Homo sapiens: one gene and its partners. The protein of the gene in region 4 interacts with the protein of the main gene of each other region in a pairwise test. Each region holds a gene or a part of one and is shown on either strand. Other genes may lie near its edges.

Evidence for each region.
Region 1: the proteins of SNAI1 (region 4) and GOLGA6L9 interact in binary tests that used the Homo sapiens proteins (3 or more experiments, as listed by UniProt).
Region 2: the proteins of SNAI1 (region 4) and TRIM23 interact in binary tests that used the Homo sapiens proteins (3 or more experiments, as listed by UniProt).
Region 3: the proteins of SNAI1 (region 4) and TRIM5 interact in binary tests that used the Homo sapiens proteins (3 or more experiments, as listed by UniProt).

What each region holds. Positions count from the first base shown.
Region 1 is NC_000015.10:82,425,004-82,433,744, reverse strand, and holds the start of GOLGA6L9 (golgin subfamily A member 6-like protein 9), read right to left. Parts: upstream 3,930-8,741; 5' UTR 3,666-3,929; coding exon 3,582-3,665; intron 2,963-3,581; exon of another isoform or gene 2,851-2,962; intron 1,916-2,850; coding exon 1,796-1,915; exon of another isoform or gene 1,174-1,795; coding exon 1,114-1,173; exon of another isoform or gene 929-1,113; coding exon 848-928; intron 184-847; coding exon 96-183; intron 1-95.
Region 2 is NC_000005.10:65,592,587-65,600,941, forward strand, and holds part of TRIM23 (E3 ubiquitin-protein ligase TRIM23), read right to left. Parts: intron 4,595-8,355; coding exon 4,465-4,594; intron 3,946-4,464; coding exon 3,835-3,945; intron 2,060-3,834; coding exon 1,935-2,059; intron 1-1,934.
Region 3 is NC_000011.10:5,681,083-5,690,372, reverse strand, and holds the start of TRIM5 (tripartite motif-containing protein 5), read left to right. Parts: upstream 1-5,298; 5' UTR 5,299-5,505; intron 5,506-9,290.
Region 4 is NC_000020.11:49,985,577-49,990,338, reverse strand, and holds the end of SNAI1 (zinc finger protein SNAI1), read right to left. Parts: intron 2,468-4,762; coding exon 2,283-2,467; 3' UTR 1,453-2,282; downstream 1-1,452. UniProt on the Homo sapiens protein: Involved in induction of the epithelial to mesenchymal transition (EMT), formation and maintenance of embryonic mesoderm, growth arrest, survival and cell migration.

The DNA of each region.
Region 1 (8,741 bases), on a different chromosome or scaffold from region 4:
CCCTTCCATCCACCCACCTCCCTGGGGCATTCTAAGTCACCCCCACAGCCCTCTAATGCCAGTCCAGCTGCCAGGTCATGCCAGCCCCATCTTACCCGTCTGGTTTTTGAGTTTGAACAAGCTCCTCCCAAGCTTCTGTACCAGATGTATCTCATGCTTCTTCTCCTCCTTAGATGTGCGAACCTGCCCAAAGCAAAGGGGGAAAAGGGTACTGGAGGGAGGGGCTGGTGAACGTCCAGAGACAGAGTTTGAGAAAGGCCCACCCCCCTTCTGCCAGTTTGTGATTTAGAAACGTGCATTCATTCAACAAACATTTACTGAGCATGTACAGGCCAGGTACAGTTCTTCATAGCAGAGATATAAAACAGCAAAGGACAGACAGGAGCCCTTCGCCCTGAGCTTTCCATTCTAGGGGCCTTTAAATCTCTGACTTTCAGAGCTAACCGAGACCTTTGATACTCTCTACCTCCTCCAGAAACACGAGCATAAAGAGGAGAGATGGCTTGTCCAGACTCAAAAAGCAAATTAGGGACTGAGGCAGGGCAGGAATATGGACCTCTGACAACCAGTCAGGCTAGTGCTTCCCAGAGAGGTGACAACCCCAGGGCATGTGTGGCAAGGACTAGAGCAGGGGTGTCTGGAGAAGAGAGAGTCAGCAAAGAGGGCAGTGCAGAAGAGCCATGCTGCATGTTCTGTGCTCTGGGGTCCCTCCAGGTGAGACCTGGGTGCCCAGCTCCCCATTTGCCCTTGGCATCAGGGGCCCCTAGCCCCTTTCTTCAGGGCCCCAAGAGGAAACTGGAGTCCAGGATTGACCAGCTGTAATCAGGGGACCCCACTGGACTCTTACCAGTGAATTGATGTTTTCAGTGAGTTGACTGATTATTGCGGAGCTTGAATCCAGGGCTACTGCTAGTTCTTGGTACTGGCTCTGAGGTGCATGCAGAGAGAAGGAGTTGGAGAAAGATTGTGGGGAGGGGTAGAGAGAATAATCATTAGGGCTGGTGGGGGTGTGTGGGCTGCCTCAGCTGGCAGAGGGGCAACAAGCCCCTGCTGTGGGAGGAGGTTGGAGGGCTGGCCTGCAGGGTCACTGCACCTCGGCCCAGGGCCTCTTACCTCCAGATCCTGCAGGGTAGTAGAGGATGCACGGCCCTCCCCGTAGATACCTGTTGCTGACTCCAAGAGATGAGAGTGCACATGGAGATGTTCTGTCCCCCCTCACTGTCTAAGCCCTCTGACTTCCTTTCTTCCCCCATCAACTGGCAAAAGCTTCTTTTCTGCCTATCTTGGAACCTTTTTCCCATAACTCCTTTGTGCCAACTTCTCTCGTGGTTCTTATCTCCCCACCATCCCACCCTGGGGCCCTTTCAGTGACTCCTAAAGGGACAGCCTGATGGCAAGTGGCTCTTCTCATTGGCCTGGCTTCCCCTTGAGACTGGGGATGAGGAAAATCAAACAGCAACGACCATTTCCTCGGTGTCCTGGGTGTTTGCAGCAGGCCATGTACTAAGGATTCACATAAAAGCAACAATAACGAATCTCATTTAAACTTCACAAATGGAAGTCAAAAAATACCACCTCTATTATACAGATGTGAAAAGAGAGGCCCAAAGACCTCAAGCAACTTGCCCTAAATCATATGCTAATCAATCCCTAATCAATTCTTAGCAGACGGAGAGGCAGGATTCAAATCCAGAATTCTTAACCAGTACCCAACAGTCCATCTACAATCTTAACAATTACCCTCTACTGCCCCTTGGGCTCCCTGTCCCCAGGAGCCTGGCCCGCCGAGACTCACATCCCCAGGTGAGTGGTAACCACCAGAAGTGAATGTGTCAGGGCTACTGCCATTGATTTTCTTTTTCCTGTTAGCTCCTGCTGGAATGCCAGGGCTCTTCCTCTGCCAATATGCTTTTAACTGTGGGAAAGAAGAGCAGTAACACTCATGAGAATGATCAGCCCCTACAGCCACATCCTCCTTTACAGTTTTGACAAAATACCCTTATATACCATCTGATGTAATGCCACCAACAACTGTACAAGGTGTTGTCACAATCACTTAGTGACTGAGAGGGATTGATATCATGGATAGAAAAAAAAAAAAAGAAAGATCAAAAAAGGCAATACTGGAACTTAAACTCAGTCCTCTGACTCCAAGCTCTGGGGTTTTGCCATGAATCAGCAGCTTCCAGGGACCAAAACCAGGGGCAGAGGTAGAAAAGCACACATTAAGCAGGCAGGAACTGTAGGCCGTGTGGTTTAGAGTCATACATCCTCACAGGTCTGCTAGCGTGAAGAAGCGTACCAGTACCTCTCACACTTTCATATCAATGTGTCCTCATGGCAGAAGGCAGCTTTTCTATTAAATCTGGGAATTTATCAGAAAGAGGACAACCCAAGCCTCATTTCAGAGCGAAGTCTGGTATACGCTTGGAAACCTATGTGTCTGTCATCCCTAAGTACATTAATGCATTTTCTCAAGAGAATCAAGGGAAAATGATGCTTCAGAAAGATGTCCCGCATTTATCCTGTGGCACTCAAAGTACCCCAGGTTGAGACGATATGAGGAAGATTCAAGCTGTCAAGTTCAGTTTCCCAAGATCTATTCCACAGAAGATGAGCAAATCTCACTTCAGAGGCCACTGACTGAAGGGCAGTCTGGTCCCAGAACCGTGGAGAACTCAGAAAAAAATGTTAAAGTCTCTCTGGAAAGTAGAAGCCTGGGAAAAAACCAAACCAAACCCATTCTCCCATTGCCACCCAGAGATACTGTGAACATTTTGAGCTCACAGGGGAAGTGTAGGCTTTTCCCACTGTCAATGTCTATGTTAAGGGAGTAAGGCAGCCTGAAACCTCTTGCTCCTAGGTCCCATAGTCTCCACTCCCCTTCCAGCTGGAAATTTGTGCTGCAACCAGAGGAACCAGAAATGGGGTGAGAAAACTTAGGGGACTGGGTTGTAAGATCAAAGGCCGGTCTTGCAGCAGTAATGACAGTTCCTAGGGGCACTGTGACATCATTGCATTCCACTCCTCCCAGGGGAGGGGACCACATCAGCGCGATGCCCGAGTCGCTGCTCCACGATGGGGGAGGGAAACACACGGTTTCGACCCAGGTCCTCAGAGACGCCAGCCCAAGAAGCCTAGGGAGGTCGAGCTTGGGGCAGCAGGAGGGGAGGGCAGAGTCTGCAGTAGGGAGCCCCGGGAGTCACCAGCCCAAAGCCACCCAGGGATGACTGGTGAGGGCAGGGCCTGGGGCTGGGGGACCCAGGTCCTGGGAGACGCAAGCCCAAAGAGCCCAGGGAGGTTGGGCTTGGGGTGGCAGGAGGTGAGGGCTGATTATGGAGCAGGGAGCCCCAGGAGTCACCTGCCCAAAGTCACCCTGGGGTGATTGGCAAGGGCAGGGACTGGGCTGCTTGCTGAAGGGGTGGGGCTGACTGACTAGGCTTTGGTTGGGGGAGCCCAGAGGGGCTGGGGTTGGGGGGCCCCATCTGGTATGCCTCAGGAGTGGTATGGACTCTGGCACCGGTCTTGTCATCGGAGGGGATCTGTGGCTGGGTTGGGGGCCATGACCTGGTGTGTTTTACCTTTTTCTTGGCTGCGGCCAATTTCCCCTGTTGTGTTTTTTCTGACATCGCGGGGTGGGGAGGGAGGCGGGGTTGGGGCCACATCAGCGAAATACCAGTGAGCACTGCTCAATGCCTCCAGTCACCTACCAGGCAGCTGTGCAACTGAGCCACAGGTGGCGTAACCAGGGCACCAATGGAACGCAGAATAGGGGCGTGGCCTTAATGTTCCAAGCCCATTGGTCAGTGAGAAAGATGAAAGGGAAAGGAGGCGTGGCCAGGCGCAGCATGTCCAGAGGGACCTGTAGCATCATAAGGAAAGCTGCCCATGCAACCGCTGTCCCCGCCCACTCAGAGAGAGGGGAGAGGCCGCCCACTCTGGGAGAGGGGAGGGGCTGGCTTTTGCTTTAAAAGCTTTAAAACTGTTAAAAATAAACTTTAAAAAATATATGTGTATATACTTTATATATGTGTGTCTGTGTGTATCTATGTGTTCCTCCAGAGCTGTCTTCATTATGCAGCTTCTATGCAAAGTCTATGATTTTGGCCTATATTTTTCATCTTCAAATGGAGCACAAGAATTACAAGTATTACCTTAACTGAGATATAGACCCTATAAAAATGGAAAATCCATAGCATTCTTGATGATTAATGAAGCTGACTATAGTATCCGACATTCCAATAACAGAGAATAATCACAACAATTTCTCTTTTTTGGAAAAATGTTTGTCTTATTCTCCTACATTATTGTTAAGATTTCTTTTAAAAACAAGAAACATGTCTAATATCTTTAAAAACACAAAGCTTTTGGGCCAGGTGCGGTGGCTCACCCCTGTAATGCCATCACTTTGGGAGGCCGAGGTGGGTGGATGACCTGAGGTCAGGAGTTCGAGACCAGCCTGGCCAACATGAAGAAACCCTGTCTCTACTAAAAATACAAAAACTAACCAGGTGTGGTGGTGGGTGCTTGTAATCCCAGCTATTTGGGAGGCTGAGGCAGGAGAATCACTTGAACCCAGGAGATGGAGGTTGCAGTGAGCCAAGCTCATGCCACTGCACTCCAGCCTGGGTGACAGAGCAAGACTCCATCTCAAAAGAAATAAAATAAAATAAAATAAGATACAAAATAAGTAGGAACACAAAACTTACAATTTAATAAGCACTTAAAGCTCTTTACTGGTTTAAAACAAATACAAGGCCCATTTTTCTAGAATCACCAGGCCACTCTAGGCCTTGCAAATGAAACTGAATTTCTCACTTGATACCTGGCTATGACTTGCAATCATGAAAACCAAGAATTGTGTTATGTCACTGTGTACTGCTTGTTACCTGAAATCCACACTAGGCTGGGATCAAGGGTTGAATCTTTCATGATTTTTCTCCATAACCTGTGTGCTTCTTATCCCAGACTGAACTAAGCTTTTTTCTAGAGTTCTACAATTTACACTTAATAGACAAGAGTGGTTCTCAAAATGTAGTCTATGGACTAGCAGCACCAGCAGCACCTGAGACCTTTTTATAAGTGCAAATTCTCAGGCCCCACCCTGGACCTGGTGAATCAGAAACTCTGGAGTAGGGTTCAGCAATCTGTGCTGCAGTAATCCCTCCAAGTGTTCAAGAACCTCTGGCATACAGCAGGTAGAAAAATGTGTTTCCTTCTGTAGGTCCAAAGCCAGGGTTACCATATGTTCTGCCTTGTTATGAAACAATGACATGCAATTAAAAGACAAGAATCTCCTTCCTACTCGCACCCTCCATCCAATGTGTTTTATTTGTATGAGTTCCATAAGAAAAACAAGCGGCAATCAGAGATTTAGTCTAAAAAGTATGTTTACAAGTGTCCGTTCTCATCCAGCCTGATCTCCTACAAAACCGTTTACATCCTCTTACATCTCAAGTTTTAAAAAAGTATCTTCACAATGTAAGACTCACGCACACTAGCAGTTCTATAATAAAACACCAAGTAGATCAGAATGTCCAACCTTACTAGAGAAGAAAAGTGGAATCATTGGCTATATTTTCAAATTGCATTCAACAGGAAATTTAAGTTTTGAATTTTTTTCACCTTTATACTTCCAAAGTAATAGAATTAAACCAGAATACGCCATTCTTTCAAAGCCTCTAGCCAGGCAAAGTTTTACTGTATTATTTCTTGCTTTCAATGGATATAAAGCAGATTCCTGGTAGGCACATTCTGTATACCTGCAAAGATGCAGAACTAAACAGTTCCATCTGTTCAATATTAAACCAAAAGTCCTGTAGACCTCGAATGGTGAGTGTAATACTTCAGCACTAGCCCAAAACCTCAAATATGAAAAGATACCAAGAACACCACTAGCAAACAAAACTAAACTCTCAGTCAGGAGCAGGAGCTGACACCTGTAATCCCAGCACTTTGGCAAGCCGAGGTGGGAGGATTACTTGAAGTCAGGAGTTCAAGACTAGCCTGGGCAGCATAAAGAATTCACATCTCCACAAAAATTTTTGAACATTAGCTGGGTGTGGTGGCACACAGCTGTAGTCCTAGCTACTTGGCAGGCTGAGGTGGGAAAATTGCTTGAGGCGAGGAGTTCAAGGCTGCAGTAGCTATGATTATGGCACTGCACTCCAGTCTGGGTGACACAGCGAGACTTAGATAATTACATTTTCTCCTGCTCCTGTTTACACTAAAATCACGAAGTTAAAAGGCTTTCAAATTTGGCAGGATAAAAATTAAGTGAAATGTGACTTTGGAGCTTGGCTAGTGAAAGAAAGAAAGAAAAAAAAGGGAAGAAGGAGGGAGGGAGGGAATAAAGAGAAAGAAAGGAAAGGAAGAAAGAGAGAGAGGGAAAGAAGAAAGAAAAAGAGAGAAAGAAAAAGAAAGAGGAAAGAAAGAGAGGGAGGGAGGGAGGGAAAAGAAAAGAAAGTAAGAATGGAAAGCAAGAAAGAAAAGGAAAGCAAGGAAGGAAGAAGAAGAAAGAAAGAAACAAGGAAAAGAAAGAAAGGGAAAGGAAAGGAAAAAGAAAAGAAGAAAAAATGAAATGACAAATTACTTACTGGGAGAAAGTTTTGTCACCTCAATGACAGATAAAAGGCTTGTATCCTTAGACTATAAAGAAATCTTTAAAATTACTGAGAAAAAAAAACAAATGATTTTCAACCGAAAATGGGCAATGGAGAAACTGGCACTTCTCACAAGAATAAAAATGGCCAGTGGCATATACAAAGATTCAAAAGCACAAGAAATCAAAGAAATGTCATGAAAACAATGAGATTTTCTGTATAAAGGCAGGAAAGATGACAAATGGAAAGGGGAACCTGGAGCTCTGTCCTTGTTGGTGGGAGTATAACCTGAGTCACTTTTCCTGGAGAATGATTTGAAAATTTCTATTAAAAACCCTAAAAATTATTTTCCTCCAGAAATTCTACTTCTATGAATTCAGTCCAAAAATGTTTGCTCGAGCCCATTAAAATGTGTGTATAAGAAAATTCACCTCTGGGGTGGCAGTGATTAACTTAATATACATCCAGCTATTAAAAATGATGATGCCAGGATATATTTACTGCCACAGAAATATGCCCAAAATATAGTAAGTGACAAAAGACTACATACTACGATTCTACTTTTTAAAAGGTTTATGTGCATAAAAACGTATAAAAAGCAACAAACCACAATGTTTTGAGTGGCAAATTAAAGATTTTTCTTAATATTTGTCATCCAAATTATTACAAAAAGAATGATTTCCTTTATAATGAGGGAGAATTGTTATTTTCATTTATTTATATTTAAATATCTTTTCTTTTTCTGATTTTGTTTTCTCCTGTATGTATCCCATGTAGGCTAGAATCCCTGCCTCTTGAGGTAAATCAGCCCATTTTTGGGAAGTGCGCTACAGAAAGCTGCCCCAGCTTCCTTTTAAGAGATCTGGAGACATTTTTTATTTCAAATTGTTTTATCGTTCTCAGATTATTTTGTTTAATATATGAAATTGAGGAAAAGACAAAGGAAAGGCTGACTCCCTACCCTCCTGGGGCTACTCTTCCAATTTTTGCTGCTATTGTTATATATTAATATTCACTGGGTACTAAAAAGATGGGCAGCCCCTTAGATCATTTGTTCTTATCTCTTTCTCATAATCCTACTTCATTCCTTCATTCACTTATTTTTAAAAAGGTCATGTGTACAAACACATGGTTCAGAAAATTTTTAAATATAACTACCTATAAAAGTATGTGGCCAAATCCCATTCACAGTCTTATTCTCCTTCTACAGCCAAACACTTTTAATTGGTTTCTTATATATCATTTCAGAATTTATGTTTGCAAATACACACGTATATTCTTATTCTACTCTTCTCTCTCAACACAAAAAGTAGCATACCATACATACTATACCATTCCTTGTTCCTCTTAAAACACACACAATATATGTGAGTTCTTCTACATGAGTACAGAGGTCTTTGTCATTCTTCTTTACAACCGCACAGTATTCATCGTTTGGATGTACCACAGTTTACTTAACCAGTTCCCTGTTGGTGGACACTGAAGTCATCCCTATCATACTATTACAAACAATAATGCCAAGCATAACCACCCACATACCAAGTTCATTTCTGAATCTGCCTTTGATGAAGCCTCTATTTGAATCACCACAAGGTCACAAGGCTGAAAAGTTAGCCAATTTTTTAGTTTTCATTATGTACAGCAGTATGTAGCAAAAGACTCCCTTGGGCAAAGCAAATGTGCTCTTTGGGGATTTACTGCATAACAATAAATGGATTAACACCAAGGAGAAATATTTCTATTTAACCATGCACATGTATGTATATAATACATGCATATGCATAGATAGTATACAATAAATCCATCAAAGCATTAAGCATTGTCTCAGTATGGTGGATCTATGGAGTGCTTTGTAGACAGCCCTCCTTGCCTATCAATTCTTTCTAGTTTCAAAACAGTGAATATGTACTATTTTTGCAATATAAAATTTCAATAAATGTTAACTCAAGCCAGGTACATTCCTTCAGTCTGTCCTATATTTGTATGGTGCTCCAGAGTGCTCAAATATCATTTCATTAAAAAAATTTACTTATTTTTTTTCAAATATAGAAACAGGCAGGGCTTTGCTCTGTTGACCAGGCTGGTCTTGAACTCCTAGATCCTCCTGGATCCTCCCACTTCCACCTCCCAAAGTGCCGG
Region 2 (8,355 bases), on a different chromosome or scaffold from region 4:
TGGTTTATATATAGGGTTATATATTGAAGAGTTCACTACATTCCCACTCTGAACACCCATTGCCCCAACTTCCCAGGAGCAACCACCAGTTACAACATATTTTTCCAGAAAATTTCCATGCACACTCATGCAAAGAGACACAAACAGGAACATAGTTTAGACTTTCTATAACTTGCAGGGTTTTCTGTTTGTTTTTTACGTAAACATGTTGAAGATGAGTATCTTTCCATTATCAGCACAGATGGTCTGCATTATTTTTAATATCAGAATTCCCTTCCATTGTGTGGCTGCAACATAATTTAACCAGTCCTATACTGAATGTTCAGATTGAAGTTTTATGCTTATGTGCTATTATAAATCCATATATATACACATACATACATAAACATACATACACAAAAGTTGACATACATTTATGTATATTTGCAAAATTATCTGTAGGATAACCTTTGGATATCTGTCTACCAGATATATAAAGGTAGAATTGCAGGGTAAGGGACTTTGATGAGTATTGCCAAATTGTCCTCCAAGAAAATGTCTCAGTTTAATAACCCACGAACAGTGTTGACCAGGCGCAGTGACTCACACCTGTAATCCCAGCACTTTGGGAGGATGAGGCGGGCAGATCACTTGAGGTCAGGAGTTTGAGACCAGCCTGACCAACACGATGAAACCCTGAATCTACTAAAAATACAAAAGTTAGCCGGGTGTGGTAGCAAGCACCTGTAATCCCAGCTACTTGGGAGGCTGAGGCAGAAGAATCGCTTGAACCTAGGAGGGGGAGGTTGCAGTGAGCAGAGGTTGTGCCACTGCACTCCAGCCTGGTGACAGAGCAAGACTCAGTCTCAAAATAATAATAGTAACAGTTGTATATAAGTCTGAGGATTATAAAACACTTTCATCTTTAACTATCTGATGAGCAGAAAATGGTATTTCACTGACTTATTTGCATGTCTTAAATATACCAGTTCTTAATAGTTTGCCTTTTTTATTAAGGGGAAAATTCTTTATTCTTCATCCTACTCTTCCCCTCCCATGACATCTCCTCTGCTCCACTTCTACTCTCCTTCTGCCTCTACTTAAAAGCATCTCATCCTCCTAGAAAGGCTCAAGGTCTAGGAATCTTCAGCTACTCCCAGTCCTTCATCCTCCCCATTCAGTCACCAGTTCTGCCTCAAAGTCTTTTCCATCTGCCTCCGCCTTTCTATTCCTCTAATTCAGGCTCTTGTTAATGCTCACTTGAATTATTTAAGCAATTTACTGCATCTCCCTGTCTCCAGTCCTTTGCCCTGATTCATTCTACCCCTAGAATTATAGTATTGAAACACTGATATGATCTTATTACCCACTAATCCAACATTTTGATGACTCCTCCTTGCTCATAGAATAAAACCTAAATTTCTCAGTCTAGCACTGTCAGACCTTTACAGCATGGCCTTGTCTGTTATTCTAAATTCTCTTCATCCTCTACTGAGACCTGACATATAGATCTGCTTGATGTTCCCTAAACTAAAAACATTCATGCTATTATCTTCTCTGTCTATAATGTTCTTCCTTTCACATACTGACTCAGCCTCATGCATAATTTCAACTCAAATTCTACATTTTACAATCTTACAACATGCCACATTTAGAACTACTTTCCTAATTCCCGTAACACTGTGTTACTTAAGTTACTTATCAGTCTTCTTCGTATTCAGATCTCTTATGTGTTCATATGCATACACAGGAGTTTCTGGTGAGCATTAACTACCTTATTTCTATTTTGTATACTCCCAGGTACCCAGCACAGCATTTTCACATAGATTGTACTCAAAATACACAGAAGAAACTATAAATATCTATTGAACTGATTGTCTTCTGAAATATTTCCAGTTGCCTTTTGACATGCACAAAACTACTAAAATAAATATTCCAATATAAAAATGCATTACCTGTTTGTTAGCAAAAATCAGGAGCAGAGCATCTCGGAGTTCTTTTTCCGTTAACAACTTTGCAAGTTCGCTGTGTGCTTCACTAATTCTGTCTCTATGACTGCTATCTACAACAAACACAACAGCTACCCAAAAAAAAATAAAAAAAACAAAAATAGTCACTTGCTAAAGTTCAGTAAATGAACCAAATATTTAATGATATCATTATTATGTTATGGTTAGAGTTTGTCTACCATCATTATTTTCACACAGAGGGTGCCTAGTATGGCAGGGGCACCTACAAATAATTAACAGTATGATTTCAAGTAGTTTACATAACTTCTCAGGTTTAGTTTCCCCATCTAGGAAAGGATTTACAACACTTGCTCTATCAAATGCAAATTGGTCTGTATATCAAATAACTTTTTACATAACGAATTTCAAAATATGCCTCATGATCCTCTACCTATGGATGCTACTTGTTCTTCGAATACTACTTTTCTAATATTTAGTCTTTGAATAAAAGACTAAAAGATAAAAACCATCACCATTTTTATTTCTCCAAAGTATTATGTCTAAGTTAACTATCTCCAGACTTTCAACCATTCCTCATATTCAAAATTTCATTTTTGTAGGGCACAGTGGCTCACACCTATAATCCCAGCACTTTGGGAGGCTGAGGTGAGAGGATCACTTGAGCCCAGGAGTTCGAGACCCCTGGGCAATATAGTGAGACCTTATCTCTATTAAAAAAAAATTAAAAATTAGCTGAATGTGGCCGGGCGCGGTGGCTCGTGCCTCTAATCCCAGCACTTTGGGAGGCCAAGACGGGCGGATCACGAGGTCAGGAGATGGAGACCATCCTGGCTAACATGGTGAAACCCCGTCTCTACTAAAAATACAAAAAAATTAGCCAGGCATGGTGGTGGGCACCTGTAGTCCCAGCTACTCAGGAGGCTGAGGCAGGAGAATGGCGTGAACCTGGGAGGCGGAGCTTGCAGTGAGCCGAGATCGCACCACTGCACTCCATCCTGGGCGACAGAGCAAGACTCGATCTCAAAAAAAAAAAAAAAAAAAAATTAGCTGAATGTGGTGGCATATACCTAGTCCTAACTACTTGGGAAGTTAAGGTGGGAAGATTGCTTGAGCCCAGGAGACAGAGGTGACCATGAAATGCAATCATGCCACTGTACTCCTGCCTGGGCAACAAAGCAAGATTCTGTCTCAAAAAAAAAATACATTTTTTCTATTAATTATGGCTCATAATAATATCAAAAATCCCAAAGTAAAAATAATTATTCAGTCTCTCATCTTGGTGGAAAGCAGAATAACATACAGAATAAGCGGCATGAGCGTAAGCATTATGTTGGGGTCTATGAGGCAGAAGTGTAGAGTAAGACCCAAATGTGACTAAAACCTATGTAGAGTATAGATATGATATAATACGGTTTGGTCAAAAGCAAGCTACTGTAAGTTCTTCTGCAGGTAATAACTATTTGTGAAAGAAATGTGGGAGTGGGGCTATAGTGAGATTATAATGGGATAAATGTTGAGTTTAACTGAATTCAGCAGAATCATACAACATAAATTCAACTCTATACCACTACGCTACCAGCAGTCACACCCATATAATACTGGTAATATACACTCTCTGTTAAGAGAAGCAAGAGTACTCTTAACTGACTACATATCTAAGCTACGTATGGTTTTTATTCTGTAATAATGGTATATCAGGAATAAACTAAAAGTATATATCCTAATCTTTCTACTTTCATTTTTTACAAGTTAAGAAACTGGCCACAGGTACTTAAGTATACAGTCAACGACTTAATCATAAGTATCAGCTTTGCTAGTTAAATCAGTACACTGAAAACTGTCATCCTAAAAATGTGAAAAATTAAATGTCATTTTTAACTCTCACCTTGAGTATTGAGGTAATAATGTTTCCACAATGGTCTTAATTTGTGTTTTCCACCTACATCCCAAATAGTGAATTTTAGATTTTTATATTCTACAGTTTCCACGTTAAAACCTGTTTTAAAAAAAAAGTTACTTTTATACTATATTTGTATTTACAATGAATGACATATCAAACACAGACAACCCCCAGTTTATAACTGTGACTTATCAAATTATCTACATGCAGCAATATCTACTGAAGCCTAATCAACCCCATTCCTACTCCTACGTGGTGAATGTATACCTGTAACAGCTCCTAGCCCTCTAAACCTCCACCAAGGTCCTTAGGACCTTGGGATCCATGTACCTTCCAGCTCTGTTCCACAACTACCCCCCACCCCACACCCTCAGCCAGGATCACCAATCCTCTATTCCTTCCAACTGTCCCACCAATACTCTGTTTCTTCTTTTTATCCCCATCCACATTTCAATCCCATAGTCATACAATCTTGCATTTTTTCTCTGAGATGCTGATATCTTAGAGCCAGAAAAGAGCCCACCACCATGACAGATCAGTATCAAATAAGACCCCAAGAACTTGGCTGTAAGCTAGGGTTTGTCTATTAAGGTAAAAACCAATATTCATACTTACCAATTGTTGGAATGGGCTGCATGAATTCATCCTGTTTTAACTTAAACAAGATAGTAGTTTTTCCAGCACCATCCAATCCTAACGTAACGACCCGAATTTCCATTTTTGGTCCAATGTGAACTCGATTATCCTACAATTTAAATATTTTTAAATATGTTTGACATGCAGTTAGAAAGTAATAGCATTTAGCACCTTTATTATTTCTACATCTCCTATTCATTCCTCAACCATTGCAATCTGAATTGTATTCCTCAAAATACTGAGTCTGATCTCAAGAAGATGAAATCCTTCCCCATGGCTAAATCTTGCCTTAGTAAAACTGACCACTTTGTCTTTGTATAACAGAATATACATACCCACTTAATTTTCTCAGATTTTCTAACTCAAATGAATCCTCTAAATCTTAAACATGTTTTTATGCTATACTAAAAAAATCACAATAAGGGTAAATCAATTAAAATGAAAAAGTGCTGCTCAATTCCCAGAAATTTCTACTATGAATCTGATGTATATCCCTCCAGACACTTTCCATGCACATACTGGCCAACATACACAAACAAAACAAATTTTTTTTTAAAAAAGTATTACCCACACATTGAAACTAATGTGTTTCACTCAACAGTATATTATGGAATCCTGTCAATACATATTGACCAACCTTTTTCTTTTAATGGCTTCTTTACATTTCATAAACCACAATTTAACTAAACCCCCAACTGATAGATTTTAGGTAATTTCTGATTTTATGATATTACAAATAATGCTATAATGAACATTTTTATATATTACTAGCTGCATGATTTCTCTGCTTCACTTCTTTCATCTCATAAAAGGAGGATTAAAATAGTACAAAATTTACATAGGATTCTTGAAAGGATTAATTTTTAAGAATACATATAAAAGTCCTTACAACAGTTCCCAAAATATATGTGTTATTTTTGCTTACTCCTTTGAGCACTCTTTGCTTGGATTTTATGATACAAACTTTTCCTGGTTTGGTTTTATCCCATTTTTGGATGTTCCTTCTAATTTTTCTTTAATCCAGCTCTTAAATGTTGGTATTCTTGAGGGTCTATATGAGGCCTCCTTCTCATTCTACATATTTTCATTCTCTTCATGAGCTTTAATTACCATGTATATTATGGCTCCAAATCTATACTTAAGTCCAGTTATACACCTCAGAAATAAAACAATATATGGAACAGAACTACTTCTGTGAGAACTCTAGAGAACAGTTAAGAAACTACAGCACCCAGGCCATAAAACCAAGAAGGCATTCCAGTGAAAGGGGTAATAAAATTTGGGGCATTCTGTGCACTCATCCCTGCCCTTCCCCATATCCAACATAGTGAGGATGAGGTGCAACCAGGAGGAAACTACAAAATACTAGCAAACTGAATTCAACAACACATTAGGCCGGGCGTGGTGGCTCATGCCTGTAATCCCAGCACTTCGGGAGGCCGAGGTTGGGGGTGGATCACCTGAGGTTAGGAGTTCGAGACCAGCCTGACCAACATAGAGAAACCCCGTCTCTACTAAAAATACAAAATTACCCAGGCATGGTGGCGCACGCCTGTAATCTCAGCTACAAGGAGGCTGAGGCAGAAGAATCGCTTGAACCCGGAAGGTGGAGAATGCAGTGAGCCGAGATCGCGCCATTGCACTCCAGCCTGGGCAACAAGAGCGAAACTCCGCCTCAAAAAAAAAAAAAACACATATTAAAGGGATTGTACGCCATGACCAAATGGGCTTTATAACTGGAAGGCAAGAATTATTCATCATCAATCAGCATAATACACAGAATGAGAGAAAAAAAGCACGTAATCATCTCAATAGTTGCAGAAAAAGCATTTAACAAAATTCAATACCCTTTCATAATAAAAACATTCAACAAACTAGGAGTAGCAGGAAACTGCCTCAGTTAACATACACCATATAAGAAATGCCCACAGCTAACATCATACTCAAAAAACTGAAAGCTTTTTCTCTAAGATAAAGAACAAGAAGATGCCCACAGAGCAATTAGGCAAGAAGAATAATAAAAGACATCCAAATTGTAAAGGAAGATGTAAAATTATATCTCTTCACAGATGACATGATCTTGTATGTAGAAAACCCTGAAGAGTCCACACAAAAAGACCTATTAGAATAAAGTCAACAAAGTTTCAGGATATAAAATCAACATGAAAATCAGTTGCATTTCTATACATTAATGATAAAAATCCCAAAAGGAAATTAAGGAAACAATTCTACTTAAAATAGCATCAAAATTATACTTTCAGGGATCATTTTTATAGTTTATGACTAAAGAAGTTTCTCTGAACATGTACAGAAAAAAAAGTTTAAGATACTTAGGAATAAACTCAACCAAGATGGTGAAAGACTTAAGATACTATGTTGGTGCAAAAGCAACTGCGGCTTTTGCCAGTACTTTTAATGGCAAAAACCACTATTACTTTTGCACCAACCTAATATGTAGGCGTACACCTAACCAAGATGGTGAAAGACTTGTACACTAAAAACTACAAATATTGCTAAAATAAATTAAGACATAAATAGACATTCCATGTCCATGGATTGAAAGACATAAAATATTAAGATATGAATAACAGCCCAGGTAATTTATATAGATTCAATGCAATCCCTATCAAAATCCCAATCATGTTTTTTGTGGAGATAGAAAAAATTAAGCTAAAATTTATAAGGAAGCTCAAGTGACCCTGAATAGCCAAAACAATTTTGAAAAAGAAAAAAGTTGGAGGACTCACACTTCCTTACTTCAAAATATATTACAAAGCTAATGTATTGTTCTGTTTTTGCACTGCTATAAAGAAATACCTGAGACTGGGTAATTTATAAAGAAAAGTTTAATTGGCTCACAGTTCCACAGGCAGTACAGGAAGCATGATGCTGGCATCAGCTTGGCTTCAGGGAAAGCCTCAGGAAACTTACAATCATGGTGGAAAGCAAAGAGGGAGTGAGGCATTTCACATGGCAGGAGCAGGAGCAAGAGAGAGGGTGGGGGAGGTGCCACACACTTTTAAACGACCAGATCTCATGAGAACTCACCTATTATGGCAAAGACAGTACCAAGGGGGATGATACTAAACCATTCATGAGAAACTGCCCCCATGATCCAGTCACCTCCAACCAGGCCCCATTTCAACATTGGGGATTACAACTGGAAATGAGATTTGGGCAGGAACATAGATCCAAGCCATATCAGCTACAATAATGAAAACTATGTGGTACTGGCATAAAGATGAGACATACAAACCAACAGAACAGAAGAGAGAGCCCAGAAATAAACCCTCAGGAATAGGGTCACATGATCTTCAACAAGGGTGCAGGACCACTCAATGAAAAGACAGTCTCTTCAATAAATGATGCTGGGGAAACTGGATATCTACATGCAAAAGGATGTTATGTATCTTACACCACCTAAAAAAATTAACTCAAAATGGCCATAAACTTAAGACCCCAAACCATAAAACTCCTAGAAGAAAAAACAGAGGAAAAGCCTCATGACATTGCATTTGAGAGTGACTTCAGGGATACACGAAAAGCACAGTAAAAAAAAAAAAAAAAAAGCAAAAATAGACTACATCAAATTTACAATTTTTGTGCATAAAATGACAAAATCAACAGAGTGAAAAATTGACCTATGAAATGGGAGAAAATATTTGAAAGTCACAGATCTGATAGGGAATTAATATCCAGAATATACAAAGAACTCCTACAATTCAACAACAAAAATAGTCAACCCAATCAAAAAGTGAGCGAAGGACAGAAATAGACATATTCAAGGCAATATACAGATGGCCAACAATTATATGAAAAGATGGTTAATGGCACTAGTCATCAGAGATATGGATATCAAAACAAATAAGG
Region 3 (9,290 bases), on a different chromosome or scaffold from region 4:
ACTCCAGCCAATGGGGAAAGGGCAAAGGGGTAGGATTTGCGTCAGGAATAAAAACTTTCTTCCTCCTTTGTTCTAGTGTGCTCTCATGGCGACTGGCAAAGAAGAAGCACCCCTCTGCACAGAAATAAAATTGCTTTGCTGAGAAATCCTTTGTTTGAGTGCTCGTCTCCCTTAAGATTCTGAGCTTTATTTCCAACAAGGAAGGTGATGGAGGTACCTAGATTGAAGAAATGAATGGTCCCTCTAGGAAACAAGCAAGGCTTTTTGCTTTTGCAAACCTCTCTTCTTTAAAGGTTACCCCTCTCCCAGACTCAGTGCTTTCTTCCTCTGCCATCTCAGCAGACAGTTCACAAGCTGCCTCTTTTTGTTTATGCAGAGCAGCTTCAGAACTACAAATTAAACTCACCCAGACACAATCAATCTATTCTTCTCAAAGCCTCCCATTCTATGCTCCCACAGATTGCTCCACTCACCTTCAGTCCAAAGCAGAGGAGTCTTGAATCAGGGGAGAAGAGTGAAGGCAGGGCAGGAGCCGGTGTAAACCAGATTCACTCACCAAGCCAGAGGGCTGGTCTCCACAAATGAGTTTCCCCACAGGAGCTGAGTGAGAAACGAAAGTTAAATTCTCAGAAGTGAAAGAAAACAAAGGAAGCTGAACAAGAACTTACATAACAATAAACCCTGGGGAAAGTAATGCTACATTATGTTCTAGCATCTGCTGTACTGGCAAGGCACTCAGTCACTACTTCCTTATTCTTACTGTGGTTTACTCAAGCAAGAATATTTGAATAAAAAGAATGTGAATTACAGTTATACAGCTTGCCTGAATACTTAGAATTCCAATGCAGTCCTATAATTATTAGTCGAATTTATCTTATATTTAAGACCTAAGCCAGGAAAATAAAGATCCAGAGACTTGGGACCTAGCTTCTTGAAATGCAGTCTGACGAGGAAGATACTCAGTTATAAAGCTCTACAAATTTGGGCTGACAAGATGAGTATTAGCAGCTGACATTGTGAATGGTAAAAAAATTATTTTTATAAATAAAAGGATCTTTAGTGTGAGCCCATTGAAAAAAATGTTCTCAAAATGTCATTAAATCTTAAGAGTCCATCAATTAATTATCACTTCCTGCTCCTAATCCAGACAGACCAGATGAGGATGGATTCCAGAGAGTAATAGAGGTAAAACTGTGTCAGTGTCATGTTACCCAGCCACTGAGGCAGGTGAGAACATGGAAGTTAACAGATGATGCTGTTTAATTATAATCATTCATTGAGTTACTCTCATGCCTTCATAATTTTTCCACTTTTCCCTGCTTCTCTAAGAAAAGTTTGGTCATTTTTACACAATCAATTAAAAAGCAGCACTGAAACATGTTATACGTCATGCACATACTTCTGTACCCTGTTGTCTATTGTATTCTTGTTTAACTGCATGTGCCAGATAATGCCATCAAAAACTGATGGAGGCCTGTGGTGTCTCATGCCTGTAATCCCAGCACTCTGGGAGGCCCAGGTGGGTGGATCACTTGAGTCCAGGACTTCAACACCAGCCTGGGCAACATGGTGAAATCCCATCTCTAAGAAAAATTAAAAAAAAAAAAATAGCTGGGTGTGGTGATGTGCACCTGTAGTCCCAGCTACTCAGGAAACTGAGATGGGAGGATGGCTTGAGCCCAGGAGGTGGAGGTTGCATTGAGCCAAGATTGCGTCATTGCACCATAGCACTGCAGCCTGGGTGACATAGTAAGACCCTGTCTCTACAAAAAACAAACAAACAAACACCACACAACACATACACACACACACCCAAAAAAAAAGAAAAAAAAAGGCAACTCATGGAGCTTCCATAACATGGATCCCTGACTGACACTATGGAGCATGGCCATCTTCATACTTTAATCAATGATACACATGTAGGATGACTGAGAAATCAATGTTTATTATTTCAATAATAGATATTTTGGTATTATTTGTTGCTCACAGAATAATAAGCTAATCCTGGCTATAAATTCTTTCCTACTCACTTATATCTATGAGGACCTTATTCAATCAGCTGAAAGCCAGAATAGAAGAAAAAACTGACTTCTCCCCGAGAAGAGGGAATATTACCAGCAGGCAAACCTCAGGCGTGAGCTATAACGTTGACTCCTTCTTGGATCCAGAGCCTCTTGGCCTACCTTGCAGACTTTGGATTTGCCAGTCTCCAGAATCACCTGAGACATTTCTCAAGTTTCTTTCCAAATAAATTCATAGTTTAGTGGTTCTATTGCTATGATGAACCTTGACTAAGACAGGCGTGAAATTTTCTTATTTCTTCTTGAAGATAAATAAGCAAGAGATGTAATTTTAGGTATATTCCATGTTTGAATAGAATATCTTGTTGACATTTGTAGGGGAGTGAGCGCTCAGTGAGTGAATGTGTTTTTTCTGGAGTGCACAGAGTGGAGTCCGAGTGTCAACCACAATGGACAAAGTGAATGAACTCATTTATCCAGAGACCTGTTCTCTGTCCATTATTTCTTCCCTTCTCAGCACTTCCATAGATCTCATAGCCATCCTTTTATTCTCGTCTGGCTTTGAACATCTGAAGTGAACTTTCATCCTGGTCTGATTTATCTCATGAAGTATTAATTGCAGCTGAGAGAAAACAGTAGTAATATTAGGTCCTGACAAGATACCAGAAAACGTGGGCCAATAGAAAAACTGAATGCACCACACACAGTTTATCACCAGAGTAGAGCATGTTGGCAGGCTCCATATTCTAACCTATGTTCTAAATTGTAGAAAAAATATATTATTGTTGGAGCTCTGTGTTTTCTCTGTAAACCCTTTTTTTTTTTTTTTTTTTTGAGACGGAGTCTCGCTCTGTCGCCCAGGCCGGACTGCGGACTGCAGTGGTGCGATCTCGGCTCACTGCAAGCTCCGCTTCCCGGGTTCACGCCATTCTCCTGCCTCAGCCTCCCGAGTAGCTGGGACTACAGGCGCCCGCCACCGCGCCTGGCTAATTTTTTGTATTTTTAGTAGAGACGGGGTTTCACCTTGTTAGCCAGGATGGTCTCAATCTCCTGACCTCATGATCCACCCACCTTGGCCTCCCAAAGTGCTGGGATTACAGGCGTGAGCCACCGCGCCCAGCCTGTAAACCTTATATATCCTGCTTTCCTGCTTGAAAAGGAATCAAATGAAATATCTCTACCTTTGGGTCCATGGATATTTAACATTTTTCTCTTCAAGAAAAAGAGCAAAATAAGAGTAAATATGGTTAGAGTCTGAATAATACTTAGGAAGAAAACAGAGAGGATATTTTAAAAAATCGTTTAAAATTTGTTTAAAAATTTACATAATTACTTTTTTTTTTTTTTTTTTTTTTTTTTTTTTTTTTTTTTTTTGAGACAGAGTCTCACTCTATTGCCCAGGCTGGAGTGCAGTGGCATGATCTCGGCTCACTTCAACCTCCACCTCCCGGGTTCACGCAATTCTCCTTCCTCACCCTCCTGAGTAGCTGGGATTACAGGCATCTGCCATTACACCTGGCTAATTTTTGTATTTTTCGTAGAGATGAGGTTTCACCATGTTGGTCAGGCTGGTCTCAAATTCCTGACCTCAAGTGATCCACCCGCCTTGGTCTCCCGAAGTGCGAGGATTACAGGTGTGAGCCACTGCAAATGTAATCATTACATAATTATTACTAATGCCACATAATTATTACTAAATAACAATTAGTAATATTAATTATAATTGTAACTATTAATAATTGTAATTATTAATAATACTAATTATTATAATTATTACTATAATTATTACTGCCACATAATTATTACTAATGCCAGAAGAATATTTGAATTAAACTAGGTGACACAGCAGTTATCTTTACAGCAAGAATAGAACAGAAATGTGACATCAAGATATTCAATTAAAATTAGATTAATAGCTATATATCTTCATATCTATTTAAATATTACTCCTTATATACACCATATTCTAGTAAATCTGAGACAATAAAGAACAAAATGCAAAAGCCCCCTACCTGATTTCATGAAACAGAAAGCTGCGGGGGTACAGTGTGGAGGGGGTATGAGGTTACTGATGATGGAATTAAGTGATAACAGGCTGCCCACTGCAGTGCTCCCCATTGCCTTCTCCTGAGGCATTTTCATTTTCAAACTAAATACTCCTCTCTACCAATGATCCTAGTTCCAGTGTGGACTTCCTGAGATGTTCCAGTAAGGGAAAGCTTAGAAGGGAGGCTATGGTACATGGACCACAGTTCAGCCTTTTGGACCAGTTTTGCATAGTAACCAGAAGAGAAGAGAGAGGAAGGCCTGGCCCTGCTCAGGGATGCAATAGATACTTTGGAAAAGACAACAGCGGGAAGTTGGAGAGTTCTTTGAAAGTGAATAGTTGAAAGAAATAATGTGGTATTTCTTTATCGCTCTCCAGATAAACTTCTTTTTTTTTTTTTTTTTTTTTTTTTTTTTGAGACGGAGTCTCACTCTGTCGCCCAGGCTGGAGTGCAGTGGCGCGATCTCTGCTCACTGCAAGCTCCGCCTCCCGGGTTCACGCCATTTTGCTGCCTCAGCCTCCGGAATAGCTGGGACCACAGGCACCCGCCACCATGCCCGGCTAATTTTTTATTTTATTTTATTTTATTTTATTTTATTAGAGATGGGTTTTCACCGTGTTAGCCAGGATGGTCTCGATCTCCTGACGTTGTGATCCGCCCGCCTCAGCCTCCCAAAGTGCTGGCATTACAGGCGTGAGCCACCGCGCCCGGCCCTCTCCAGATAAATTTCTAGCATCCTGTCCTCTCTGGGTTTCGGAGTCTTAATAATATGACATCTCTCCTACCTGCAGCTCCTTTTCTGTTCATAGGTCCTATAAGATTTTTAAGTCCAGACCAGAAATCTACTGCAATTCTCTAAAAATCATTAACTTTGTTCTTCCTTCTCTTTGGGCCATATCTGTCACCCAGAAGCAGAACTCAGCTGTGAGATCAGGAGCAAGAGGAGCACATTGGAAGAATTTCGAAAAAGGGCACCTTTTCTAATTTTTAATACTTGGCTGGGTTAATCTGAAACTATGTCAGAAGAAGTGGCATGATAACAAGATCCTGAGACTCAAGAGAAAAGGGAGATTGAGTGGGAATGCCTCTAGTTCCCACGGCTCCTCCTGTGAACAGCACAGCTACACGGCCCGGCTGATTCATTCAGAGGGCGGGACTCACCAGGCCCTACGTGGAGAAATGCCATTGGCCCATAGTTTATCTTTCACTTTCCTGCCCTGAGTGTGAGCAAGAATTTCCTGCGGTTCCTCTAGGAAAATTCCTTTGTGCAGATCAGGCCCGTGGATTGGTGAGTGAATCCTAACCACGTCTTCCCTGGCCTGTCTTCACTCTTCTCCCCAGAATCACCACTTCTGCACTGGTGTCTGAAGGTGTATTGAGTGATTTTGTGGAGGGCAGAAGTAGGAAGTCTTTGGGACAAAACTGTATTTACCTTGGTGAGTTTAACTTATCTGAAAAGCTGTGCGGGGGTGGGGAAAAGACACAGTTCACAGACTTCTTGCTGCCAGAGCTGACTGAGGGGAACAGAGCCGCCTGGCGGGCAGGCAGATTTGAAAGAAGGGAGAGCTTTAAAGTGAAGGGCTTTGTTTCCCGAAGGCTGGTTATTTTTCCATGCTGACTCTCTCCCCATCCCCTCCCTACTCTATACTTTTTAATTGAACTTTGCTGTAGAGAGCCAGAATTCTCTCTTTCAGTGTCTTCTCCCAACAACAAGGGCAAAGACAGGGGCCTTGGAATCCTAATGATTTAATGCCTATTAGTTTACTAATGTAGTGTTTCTGCATAACTCTACAGGTCAGTTCTCATCACCTTGGCCTGGCTCTGTGACATCAGCCTTCATGGTGTGACAGCTGTCCAGTTCTGTAGTCCTGTCATTGTCACTGTAAATGGAGTTCTTTCCCTAGTTCATATTGGTTACAAAGATAATGGGAAAAAAGGCAAGCAGGTTTTATTTCTTGCTAGGAGTGGAGAGTAAGAGAGCTCCTTCTCTAAAGCCCCCTCCCCCAAAACAGTGGAAAGCATTGGCTTTAAAAGAACTGAGTACGGGGAGAGAAAGGAGTGTTAGCCTATAGGGTGGAACTCCAGTTGTGCCACCTCTGTTTATAAACACATGTCTTCATACTGTGTCCGGAATTGGTGGGTTCTTGGTCTCACTGACTTCAAGAATGAAGCCGCGGACGCTTGCAGTGAGTGTTACAGTTCTTAAAGGCGGCATGTCCGGAGTTTCTTCCTTCTGATGTTCGGATGTGTTCAGAGTTTCTTCTTTCTGGTGGGTTCGTGGTCTCGCTGGCTCAGGAGGGAAGCTGCAGACCTTCGCGGTGAGTGTTACAGCTCATAAAGGCAGTGTGGACCCAAAGAGTGAGCAGTATTAAGATTTATTGCAAAGAGGAAAATAACAAAGCGTCCATAGTGTGGAAGGGGACCAGCGCAGGTTGCCACTGCTGGCTCAGGCAGCCTGCTTTTATTCTCTTATCTGGCCCCACCCACATCCTCCTGATTGGTCCATTTTACAGAGAGCCGAGTGGTCTGTTTTGACAGGGCACTGATTGGTGCATTTACAATCCCTGAGCTAGACACAAAAGTTCTCCAGTCCCCACTAGATTAGCTAGATACAGAGTGTAGACACAAAGATTCTCCACATCCCCACCAGAGTAGCTAGATACAGAGTGTCGATTGGTGCATTCACAAACCCCGAGCTAGACACAGGGTGCTGATTGGTGTGTTTACAAACCTTGAGCTAGATACAGAGTGCCGATTGGTGTATTTACAATCCCTTCGCTAGACATAAAGTTTCTCCAAGTCCCCACCAGAGTAGCTAGATATAGAGTGTCGATTGGTGCATTCACAAACCCTGAGCTAGACACAGGGTGCTGATTGGTGCATTTACAATCCCTTAGCTAAACATAAAGGTTCTGCAAGTCCCCACCAGACTCAGGAACCCCACTGGCTTCACGCAGTGGATCCTGCACCGGGCCGCAGGTGGAGCTGCCTGCCAGTCCTGTGCCATGCCACGCACCTGCACTCCTCAGCCCTTGGGTGGTGATGGGACTGGGCGCCGTGGAGCAGGGGGCGGTGCTCGTCAGGGACGCTCGCGCAGCACAGGAGCCCAAGGGGTCGTGGGGAGGCTCAGGCATGGTGGGCTGCAGGTCCTGAGCTCTGCCCCGCGGGGAGGCAGCTAAGGCCCGGCGAGAAATTGAGCACAGCAGCTGCTGGCCCAGGTGCTAAGCCGCTCACTGCCCGGGGCAGCGGGGCCGGCCGGCCACTCCGAGTGCGGGGCCCACCAAGCCCACGCCCACCCGGAACTCCAGCTGGCCCACAAGCGCGGCGCGCAGCCCCGGTTCCCGCTCGCCCCTCTCCCTCCACACCTCCCTGCAAGCTGAGGGAGCCAGCTCCGGCCTTGGCCAGCCCAGAAAGGGGCTCCCACAGTGCAGCGGTGGGCTGAAGAGCTCCTCAAGTGCCGCCAAAGTGGGAGCCCAGGCAGAGGAGGCGCCAAGAGCGAGTGAGGGCTGCAAGGACTGCCAGCATGCTGTCACCTCTCAATACAACCCAGGCACACAAAATGGTGGAGATTTTCTTGTTTGGTGTCGTGTGGGGGAGGGGGTAACTTAACACTCTAGTGATATGTTAATGATCTAAAGGCAATTAGGGATTGTCAGTTCCAGTATATACGCTGGTTCGGGGGTCTAATTTCCCCCTTGGATCTGGTCAGGGGTCAAGATCTGGACCATGCTGGGCAGTCTGGCTTCTTCTTAAGCAACTTTGTCTATACATAAAGGGAATAAAGAAAAACGTTAAGAAAAATAACTTTCCCAGTCATTTCATCAGGGCTTCCCTGGTGACAGCATCTGTTTGCCTCTACTAGGGCACCAAGTCCAGACTCAGGGAACTACTGGATTTTCTTAAAAATCATTAACCTTGCTCCTCCCTCTCCGTGGGCCGTATCTGCCCCCCAAAAGCAGAGCTTAGGTGAGATACGAAGAGCAGGAGAAGCATGTGGAAAGAATACCCAAGTAGCTGGGATTACAGGCACCTGTCACCAAGCTCAGCTCATTTTGTATTTTTAGTAGAGACAGAATTTCACCATGTTGGCCAGGCTGGTCTTGAACTCCCAGCCTCAGGTGATCCGCCTGCCTTGGCCTCCCAAAGTACTAGGATTACAAGCGTGAGCCACCACACCCGTCTGGTTAAGTTAAATATTAAAAGCTGAAGCCGGGCACGGTGGCTCACGCCTGTAATCCCAGCACTTTAGGAGGCCGAGGCAGGTGGATCACAAGGTCAGGAGTTGGAGACCAGACTGGCCAATATGGTGAAACCCCATCTGTACCAAAAATACAAAAATTAGCCGGGTGTGGTGGTGCGTGCCTGTGGTCCCAGCTGCTCGGGAGGCTGGGGCAGAGGAGTCACTGGAACCTGGGAGGCAGAGGTTGTGGTGAGCCGAGATTGTGCCATTGCACTCCAGCCTGGGCGACAGAGCAAGACTCCGTCTCAAAAAAGAAAAAAAAATATTAAAAGCTGATAGAGCCAGTGCCCTTATACAAAGGCTGGAATGTAACAGAAGCCCACTGAGAGTTTTGCCCAGGCCTTTCCTGGGCCTTGAAGCATGACAAGATAACGAAGGAATCGATTAGGACCTGTTTAGGATTAAACAAGTTTTATGGGGGTCTGAAGGAACTCCCAGGCCTCCACAAACAAGTTTATTGAGGGTCTGAAGGAACTCCGCAAACCTTAATGATTTAGCAGGAGAGACAAGATAAGGGTAATCACCCCAGCACCCGGACCCATCTAGATTAGGTAAATTTACTGAGGCACCAGAGGAAGGTCTTAAAACTCAGACCTTAGTTATAGATTTGAAGAAGTTAATCACTTATGTTTTTAGATGAATAATGCACACCTATACGTAGACGTATAGCTTAGAAGGTATATAAGCTCTGGAAAACTTTGTAATTTTGAGTTGGTCTGGAGATATTTTCTAGGCCTTCTCCCTGTACGCAGAAATAAAAATTCGCTTCTTTCCCAGTAAATCTGCATCTCGTTATTGGGCCGCAAGAAGCAGCAGCCGACCCTCCGTTTGTTCCGGGAACAGAATCATCTCATCTAATATTTTGAGACTTCTCTCTCAAGACTGATATCCACTGCCTCTGTGCTTCTAGTTTTCAAGTATCCAACATGTGTGGTCCACTGAGTATTTCTCTATCATCACCCTCTACACCATGTCTACACC
Region 4 (4,762 bases):
CTCTCCCCGACCAGAACATACGTCCCATGAACGCAGGGATGGCCTGTCTTGTTCACGGGTGTAACCCCAGGGCCTGGCACATATGGTACCCTCGAAACCCCTGAATGAATGAATGCCTCTGTACAGTCTCCGAGAGGAAGGCACTACTGTCACCCTGTTTTATAGACACAGAAACTGGGGCCCCCAGAGGGAGAGAGCCTTGCTCCAGGTGCCCTGAGAGTCAGCGGCATGAGCCCAGCCTACCGAACTCCCAGGATGACCTGAGGGGCCGGGCTTGGTGACCTCAGGCAAGCCCACCTCTGTGCCTCATTTTCCGGAGGCCCGACCCCCAGGGATTATGTGAAGTCATGAAATCATTCATTCAGCACCTACTGTGGGTGGATGGAGACGACCTAGAGGGACCCGCAGGGACCCAGGACACAGTAGGCCTTCAGCTCATGGATGCCCAACCCCCATCCCCCCAACTCCCTAACTTCCCTTCAGGGAGGCAGGCCACAATTTGGCGATTGTTAGAGAACGTTTTTTTTTTTCCTTTTGGGAGGAAAGCTGCAAGTCATTAAGGGCTGCTCCCGGCCTGCGGGTCACCATTTCCTGTTTAGAAGAAAGAATCATCTCTCCTTTGGAACATGAAGCTCCCCCCACCCCCAGCCTGACTCTGGGGCTCCGAAGCTCTGGGACGCCTCAGCTCCTCACAGGAAACTGGCACCTCCAGCACCTTTTGTGTTCAAAAAGGACACTCATTTTCTCCTGGCCCCAAGAGGCCCCCAGTGGTGAGGTCACCACCATCGGCTGGCGGGGAATGAATTACCCTAGCCCAAGACGCATGCTGACCGTCCCGCCGTCCTCGGAGCAGGAAGCTGAGTGACCCCTACCCTTTGGCCTGGCTTCTCACCCTACTGGCTCCAGCCAGCCAATTTCCTCGCATCAAAGGCCATTTGGTACCCAGCAGCAAGACGGAGGTGTGGGACTGACAAGGAGGCCCAAGGGGGCCTGGAGCCCTTGGAAACAGGAAGGACATCCTCTGTCTCCTTGGTCGCATTCCACTCGCATCTGGGGGAAGCGGACAATCCCACCCCAAAAGACCTGCAGTGCTGGGGCAGAGCTTTGCAGCCTGTCTAGTTGATAAGACCCAGGAAGCCAGCTTTGCACTCCGTGGGCCAGATCAACTTCAAAATTCAAGAACGAGAAAGTAAAAAGCCACAGTGTATAGTGAAGAGCTCGTATGGATGCCGCTGGCTCACCCAAACAGCAGCAGACAGGACACCCAGGCCAACGGGAAAACCCAGTCTCATAAGGTCCCTGACAGTGACACCCAGGACTCCAAAGCCCTATGATGTTTCCAAGGACAAGATTTAAGGCTGTGTCAGAAATATCTAAGCTTCAGGAATTCCTGTCCCCTCCTCCCTTACCAAAGACCTTTCAAAATACCCACTCCTCTATGACACCAAAGACTTTTTAATATATAAATTAACTGCTTTATTGAATATCAATAAACTGTACATATAACTATACAAAACGTTTCCTTGATACAAAATGTTTGAAATATAAATACCAGTGTACCTTTAAAAATGTAAACATCTTCCTCCCAGGCCCACCTGTCGGGCCCCCAGAATAGTTCTGGGAGACACATCGGTCAGACCAGAGCACCCCACTTGGGCCCCCGACAAGTGACAGCCATTACTCACAGTCCCTTTTCAGACATTGTTAAATTGCCCGGGAAACAGGTGCCACCCCACCAAACAGGAGGCTGAAATAGCTGCCTGGGCTCGGGGCATCTCAGACTCTAGTCTGCCACCGCCTCCGCAGGCCCTGGGGCTGCACCTGGGGGTGGATTATTGCATAGTTAGTCACACCTCGTGGAGGGTGGCCTGAGGGTTCCTTGTGGGGGGGTGTGTGTGAGGGGAGTGGGGTCCCCTGAGTGGGGTGGGAGCTTCCCAGTGAGTCTGTCAGCCTTTGTCCTGTAGCTCAAAGCAGCTGTATCCAAACAGCTCTGGATACAAAAACCCACGCAGACAGGCCAGCTCAGGAATCCCCCAGGGCTGGGGGCCAGCTGCCCTCCCTCCACAGAAATGGCCATGGGAAGGCCTCTTCCAGAGCCCAGGCAGAGGACACAGAACCAGAAAATGGTCTTCATCAAAGTCCTGTGGGGCTGATGTGGCCAGAAGTGGGGCACTCAGGAGGGAATTCCATGGCAGTGAGAAGGATGTGGGGTCCTTCCTGCTGGAGCTGGGGAAGGCTGTCAGGCAGGGGCAGGTATGGAGAGGAAGAGGGAGCCTCGAGGGTCAGCGGGGACATCCTGAGCAGCCGGACTCTTGGTGCTTGTGGAGCAGGGACATTCGGGAGAAGGTCCGAGCACACGCCTGGCACTGGTACTTCTTGACATCTGAGTGGGTCTGGAGGTGGGCCCGCAGGTTGGAGCGGTCAGCGAAGGCACGGCTGCAGTGGGGACAGGAGAAGGGCTTCTCGCCTGGGGAGAGAACGCCAGAAAGGCCGAGTGAGCCGTGGGACAACGGCTGGCAGTGATGGGAATCCCTCCCCGCATACCCCAAACCCTGAAAGAATCCCATGATCCCAGGAAAGCCAGGCCTCCGTCAAACACACAGCCAGGGTCCAAAGGCCGGGACCTGACGGAGCTCTGCTGCTTCCCACTGTGCAACTCTGAGCAAGTTGTCTGGCTTCTCTGAGCCTCCATTTTCCCACCTGTAAAATGGGGCTATTCACCCCCCACTCATAGGGGTTGATAAGTGACAGAAGGTAGGGTACTCATCCACATCCCGCAGGGACGTGCGAAGTGGTCAACAATGACTCAACACCTTTACTGATTCATCCTACTGTCACTTGATCCTACTGTGGTCTCATTTCAGAGACAGTGAAACTGAGGCCCAGAAGTAGCATGTTCAGGTTCCCCTGGCAGGACCCCAAAGCCTCTGATTTCACCTACTGCCCTTACTGCCTTCAGTCAAGGGAGGACGTGACTGGTGTCCTTACCATCAGTCCTGGAGTCATTCCTTGATTTACTCTGTTGGGGGCCAAAGCCAGAGTCAGCCTTAAGAGGCTTCCCCACCCCCACCTCCAAGCTGGTTAGGCCACTCCTGGGGCCCGGCCAGCAGCCTGCTTTCCTCACCACCCCACCTCCTGCGCTGTAATCCCAAATCTCCTTGTCTGTTCTCCAATCAGGCTGAGTCCCATAAGGGCAAGGGCCTCCTTTGAGTCCCTTCTGAGCCCCAGCCCAGGGCCTGGGCCCCTTTCTATCACCCAAGAGGCTACGGAAACCTGTGGCCCTGACACACCATCTGCCTGGCCAAGGCTGTGTTGGGAAAAGTCTTGCACATGGAGCTGGGTGCCCAGTAAATCCTCAACAAGCCCTTAGAGAATAAATAAGTCTGTTTTAAAAATTAAAGAGGCCTCAGAGGAGTCTGCCCCCTCACTCATGCCTCATAACAATCCCTGCTCCAACCAAAAAGCTATATAGTTCCAAAAACACCAATAATGTTGATTTGTTTTTTTCTGGGGGATGCAGCATTTTCCAAATAAAAGGTCATAACAGTAACCCATTAAACAAAAATCTATTGAGGCTGGGTGTGGTGGCTCACGCTTGTAATCCCATCACTCTGGGAGGCCGAGTGAGGCAGGATTGCTTGAAGCCAGGAGTTTGAGACAAGCCTAGGCGATAAAGCAAGACCCTGTCTATAATTTTTTTTTTAATCTACTGAGCTCCTACTAAGTGCTAGACACTATTCCATAATACTGAATAGTCTTTTTAAAAAACATGCAATTCTCCAATCCCCTCACGCCCAGTCTGATATGCCCGCAAGGTCAGGGCCCGCCTGTGAAATCCCAGCGCTGGATGGAATTTAAGAGCTGAGAGTGAATTCATTCCATCACCTCCTGGGTGCCTAGGGTGCCACACTGAGCTACCAGGGTAGGAGAGAGTCCAGAGGATGGCTCCAATGGGACCCATGCATTCAATAGGGACTTATGGAGCGCCTGAGAGCTGGACTCAGTCTCATGGGGCAGAAATGGAAACTCGCCACTCCAAAGGGTGGGGGACATAGAGGATTGGGGGAGGGGTGCCTGAGCACTACTCCACTCTGCCATTACTCAGCAGCCTCCACACGCCACGCCTGAAGGGTTTGTTGATTGCATTCTAAGTCTTCATGTGAATGAGAAGGGTAAGTTCACCCTTGTGAACTAAGGGCTGACTCTGGAGATCTGGAAAAGGGGCTGGAGTCCATTTGTAAGACCAGAGTTAGGACAGCACCTCCCTTCCCTTCCCAGGGCTGTTGGTGAAGTCCTGAGCACTACCCTCCTGTACAGTAAGTGCCCAAAGTGTGATGAGACCTGAACCCAAACAAAAGGGGAAGGAGACATTCTAGGACATGATGGGCTGGGGGCGGGGGCTGTGTGCACACGCAGGAGGCACAGACCCCCACTCCTTGGATCCCTCGCCCCCCAGACGCCTTCATGGTACTCCTGGCAAGTGTGAAATCGGCACCAGGCCGGCGGGGACAAAGGGCGCCGAGGGGGGCACTGTACATGCGATATCCCCGGATTAAAGGGGCCTGCCATGCAGTGGGCCAGCAGCTGTGACTGGAACAGGTGCTGGGCACCGCTGCCCCATGCACCTGCTCCACCCCTCCCAGCCCCCACCCACTGGGCCCACCATTAAGGCACACAATGGGAGTCAATGAGGACCGCAATGATACATTTCAAGGGGATTTCTGTGTCTCAGCCATGCCTTTACATTAAAATAATGTCCAGA